Regions from separate parts of the Homo sapiens genome. Here region 1 is linked to region 2. Evidence: fine-mapped expression QTL. A gene starts in region 2. The other region holds a variant in brackets. All regions are shown on one strand. Distances are between the middles of the regions.

Region 1 (2,500 bases), 30 kb after region 2:
AAAGCCAGGTTGGTTGAAGACTAAAATGTGAAAAGCAAAACTTCAAAATTTCCTTTAGAAGATAACGTAGAATATCCTTATGACCTGAAGGTAGGGACTGATTTAAACACAAAGACACAAAAAGCATAATCAATAAAGAATACAAAGTTAAGAGTGTTCACAAAAATATAATATAAAAGAGCAAAGAGACAAGCCATAAACTGAGAGAAGATATTTGCAGTGTTAACATCTAACAAAGGAATAGTGTTCAGAATAAAAATACTTGTATTAATATAATACCTAAAAAAAATGCACAGCTCAATAGAAAAATGAGAAAAGCCTTCAATAATTTACAAAAGAAGACACTCAAGTGGCTTATAAATAGGGGGAGAAAACTCAATAACCAAGCACAGGAAAATAAAAACCATATCAATATACCATTACACACCCACTAGATTGGTAGAAGTGTGATAGTAAGTGTTTGTGAGGATGTGGAACAATAAGTGCTCTCACACACAGCATATAGGAGTGTAGTAAAACCAGTTAAAAAAACAAGTTTGGCCGGGTGCGGTGGCTCACGCCTGTAATCCAGCACTTTGGGAGGCTGAGGTGGGCGGATCACGAGGTCAGGAGTTTGAGACCAGCCTGACCAACATGGTGAAACCCTGTCTCTACTAAAAATACAAAAATTAGCCGGGCATGGTGGTGCGCGCCTGTAATCCCAGCTACTCAGGAGTCTGAGGCAGGGGAATCGCTTGAACCCAGGAGGTGGAGGTTGCAGTGAGCCTAGATCGCGCCACTGCACTCCAGCCTGGGCCATGGAATGAAACTCTGTCTCAAAAAAAAACAAAAAAACCCCACGAGTTTGTCATTACCTGGTGAAGTTGAACATGAACATATCCCACAACCTGGAAATTACACTTCTAAATATAGTCCCAAGAAAACTTTTGCACATGCGCACTAGGATACATGTACAAGAACGTATTGTAGTAGCCCCAAACTGTAAACAAGTCAATGAATCCCAGTACTAAATTGTAAAATTATGCAGTGTAATATTGCACAGCAGTGAAAATGAAGAAACTACAGGAACACACATTAACATGGATAAATATCAGATACATAATATTTAGTTAAGGGAATACATGCCTTATGATTCAAAAACAGATAAAATGTACTATGTAATGCTGGGCATGGTGGCTGACGCCTGTAATCCTAGCACTTTGGGAGGCCGAGGTGGGCGGATCACTTGAGGTCAGGAGTTCCAGACCAGCCTGGCCACCATGGCGAAACCCTGTCT[C/T]TACTAAAAATACAAAAATTAGCTGGGTGTGGTGGCACGTGCCTGTAATTCCAGCTACTCGGGAGGCTGAGGCAGGAGAATCGCTTGAACCTGGGAGGCGGAAGTTGCAGTCAGCTGAGATCGTGCCACTGTACTCCAGCCTGGGTGATAGAGCCATCTCAAAACAAAACAAAACAAATAAAAAAACAATTAATATGTAATTTAAACATGCATAGGTAGTAAAGCTTTTTTAAAAGTAATGTGATTTTTTGCCAGCCACAAGAGTGGTTGATAGACATAATCTGTTAGAGGCATGCAGGGGCTTCCAAGGTGTTGACAATGTTCTATAAATTTGGGGATTTTTTTTTTTGTTTTGAAAAAGGGTCTTGCTTTGTTGCCCAGGCTAGAGTTCAGGGGTGTGATCATAGCTCACCACAACCTCAAACTCTTGAATTCCTGGGTTCAAGCAGTCCTCCCACCTCAGCCTCCAGAGGACAAATGTGAACTAGATGTTTATTGTGCAGTTTTGGCAGAGTTAATATTTTTAATTTTTTTCATTAAAAAATTATTATATTTTAGAGACTAGGTCTTGCCCTGTTAACCCAGGCTGGAGTGCAGTGGCACGATCTCAGCTCACTGCAATCTCTGCCTCCCAGGTTCAAGTGATTGTCGTGCCTCAGCCTCCCCAGTAGCTGGGATTACAGGTGTGAGCCACTGTGCTTGGCCTTTTGTGTGGTTTTAACAGAGTTGTTTAATGTTTTATAAATTGAGTGTATATTTCTTATATGTTATTGTATATGAAATATTTCACAATAGAACATTTTAAAAATACATTTTGTGCCAGGCGTGGTGGCTCACGCCTGTAATCCCAGTACTTTGGGAGGCTGAGGTGGGTGGATCACAAGGTCAGGAGATCAAGACCATCCTGGCTAACGCGGTGAAACCCCTTCTCTACTAAAAATAAAAAAAAATTAGCCAGGCGTGTTGGCAGGCGCCTGTAGTCCCAGCTACTCAGGAGGGCTGAGGCAGGAGAATGGCATGAACCCAGGAGGCGGAGCTTGCAGTGAGCCGAGATCGCGCCACTGCACTCCAGCCTGGGCAACAGAGCGAGACTCTGTCTCAGAAAAAAAAAGAAAAAAGAAAAAAGAAAATACATATTGTGAGGTCTAATGGGGAAGAGCAATGATGGAACATCGTTGATTAGCCACAATTTTTTTTTTTTTTTACTTTTTAGTTTAGAGATGG
Region 2 (3,020 bases):
CCACAGTGGGGAAGTATTGGTACAAATTAAAGAAGAGATGGAGGAGGGCGGGCTAGGCAATGGAATCAGCAAGAATACAGGCCCAGAGGTAAGTATGATAAGAAAACAAAAAATTGAGCTGGGCACGGTGGCTCACGCCTGTAATCCCAGCTCTTTGTGAGGCCGAGGCGGCCAGATCACTTGAGGCCAGGAGTTTGAGATCAGCCTGACCAACATGGTGAAACCCCGTCTCTACTAAAAATTACAAAAATTAGCCGGGCGTGGTGGCGCCTGGCTGTAATCCCATCTTCTCAGGAGGCTGAGGCAGGAGATTCGCTTGAACCCGGGAGGCGGAGGTTGCAGTGAGCCGAGATCAGCCCACTGCACTCCAGCCTGGGCGACAGAGCGACTCCGTTTCAAAAAAAAAAAAATTAATAATTAAAAAAAAAATCGCAGGGCAAGTGGGCGCGCTTGTAGTCCCAGTCACTTCGGGGAGCCGAGGTGGGAGGATCGCTTGAGCCAGAAGGTCGAGGCTGCAGGAAGCCATGATCACGCCACTGCCCTCCAGCCTGGGTGACAGAGTGAGACCCTGTCTCGAAAAATACCAAAAAACAAATAAACAAACAAAAAACCAAAACCAAAAAAACAAGCCACTGACAGTTCTTGGGTATGGTTGAGACTCGAGATGAGATGCCAGTGGGGTGGGCAGTAGAAAGTGCAGAATAAAATGTACATTTGAACTGAGTCACCCTGCAAGGCCTGAGAGGCCAAGGCTTCACTGTGAGTGGGAGCTGGTAGGCTTAGCAGCAGAGGGAAAAGCAGCGTCGAGTTTTGGAGGTCACTCGACTTAGGTAAGAACAGACTGACTGACTGCTAGGCATTTTCTTCCTTTCGTTCAACAAATATTTGTGGAGTGCCTATTACGTGCCAGAAGCTGTTCTGGACACTGAGAAACAGGGATGAAGAAGAAACAGATCCAAGCCTTCCTGAGAGTAACCTCCCCAGGTTTCATGGATGAGGAAACTGAAGGTCGTCCTGACTCAGGCTCATGGCTCCGACCCCGGCTTCTGTGGTTGGAGGGCAGCACCTTACTTAGACTCCCAGCGCACGTGGAGCAGTCTGCCGGTCGGTTGTCTGGCTGCGCGCGCCACCCGGGCCTCTCCAGTGCCCCGCCTGGCTCGGCATCCACCCCCAGCCCGACTCACACGTGGGTTCCCGCACGTCCGCCGGCCCCCCCCGCTGACGTCAGCATAGCTGTTCCACTTAAGGCCCCTCCCGCGCCCAGCTCAGAGTGCTGCAGCCGCTGCCGCCGATTCCGGATCTCATTGCCACGCGCCCCCGACGACCGCCCGACGTGCATTCCCGGTACGGTAGGGCCCTGCGCGCACGGCGCCAGAGGGATGGGCGGGTAGAGCCAACTGCCTCTGGTTCTGCTGGCCTCCGCTGCTCGCGAAGGGATTCCTGCTCCCGGGAGGTGTAGGAGCCGCTTTCCAGAAGCACAGCCCAGAGACGTCTGGGCGGCGGCCCACACAACGCATGTGTTCGGAGCTCGCCGCGCTCTGCTTTTGCTCTAAGCGGGAACCATGGCTTCTGGCCACGCTGGGGAACCGAGGAGGTGGCCGCACCCAAGCAGGGGTCGAAAGCCCGGGTGGATGCGGAACAAGGATATGATAGGCCTTAAGGGTGGGGGATACCTCTGGGCTCGAAATCGGCGGGCGGTGCAAAACTCGAGGTCCAGTTCTCGGAGCCCATAGAGCCAAAAAAGCCTCAGCTTGTCCGGGGCGGGTTCTTGAAAGACGGAAAGCGGCTGAGTACCACGCGGCTTGCATTTTTCTCTTGGGACGCTCGAGAGGTGGGCTCCGTGAGGGCAGCTGCTGCCTGCAGATTATAGGGAGCCCTTTGCGCATTTATTAAGAAGCTACTGGTGTATCTCGGGCTGCGCTAGGCACGGCGCATGCAAAGATGAAGCAGGCAGCATCCCAGCCCTTCCGCACCTCAGACGGTCAGTTGAGTAGGATCCGCCGGTACCAACTCCTCCTTTTAACAAATAGGGAGACCGAAAGCTAGGAGACAGTCAGGGATCTCTAAGTTCCCAGTGAGTAGGAGGCAGAGGTGAGGTGTAGAACTCGTTTTTGCATGTCTCTCGCCTCTAGACGCACCCTTCCCTCATCCCATGCCCTCCCACCTCCGCCCCTACATTAAAGGTAGCATTGGATCCCGGGGCCGTTCAGTGAAGCTAGCAGGTGTCCGCAGGAACTCCCTTCCCCCTGCCAGGCTAGAAACCTTACAAGGCTGTCTAGAAATAGCAGTGATTTGTAAGGAGAGACCCGGCTCCAGCTTGGTGACTCTGGGCTGACTGCCTGCCTAGAGGTCCTCTCGGATTTTTGCCCTTTGGAGTGGTGTCAAAACTAGACGTGATACTTTGGGGATGCAGCCTGTGATATTTCCTCCAGCGAATGCAGTGCAGGGTTGGATTAACAAGGTGGAAAGAATTCGAGGGTTCCACCAAGTAGCTATTAACTCTAGGGCTGCAGGCCTCAGGCCTTCTGCAGCTATTTCTACACTCCCTGTACTGAAACTATTTCTTCATACTGGGCCTGACAGGCCTTTGCAACAAGGATCACGGCCGAAGCCACACCGTGCGCCTCCCTCCCGGTTGGTTAACAGGCCCTGGTTTCTAGTATTGCGATTTAAAGTCTGGCGCTGGCTGCGCGCCAGACCTGGGAGGCTGCCAGCTAGGCTTCACGTTGCTGGCGTCTGCTTCGGGGCATTCATTAGGTCTGAAGTCTGAATCCCAGCTCCCTCCCTCTCACCCACTGAGCTGCATAGCTCCAGATTGCCTCTGCTTACGGGCGGGGCTTCTCAGCCTTCTGCCTTCTGGCCCGATGCCCGCTTCCCAACGGCCGGAGGCCGCTAGACTAATCGGCTTCGCCCTGCGCGCTGTAATGCGCATGCGCACGCGCACAAGTTCCTGGGCCCGCCCATCTTCCGGACTTGGGCGGGGCGTAAAAGCCGGGCGTTCGGAGGACCCAGCAATTAGT

The links.
Region 1: its variant is fine-mapped to the expression of LDHA in whole blood (TOPMed, PIP above 0.99).

What each region holds. Positions count from the first base shown.
Region 1 is chr11:18,423,565-18,426,064 of GRCh38, forward strand. The region is part of intron 3 of LDHC (lactate dehydrogenase C); the gene reads left to right. Among named protein-coding and RNA genes, the nearest start is that of LDHC, 12 kb to the left of the region's middle. The variant C/T (reference allele first, on the strand shown) is at 1,277.
Region 2 is chr11:18,393,293-18,396,312 of GRCh38, forward strand. It overlaps LDHA (lactate dehydrogenase A), which reads left to right and starts at 1,271. Exons shown (of 8, transcript NM_005566.4): 1 at 1,271-1,344. RefSeq lists enhancers at 566-1,230, 877-966, 1,231-1,896, 1,277-1,366, 2,631-3,020 and a silencer at 2,127-2,176.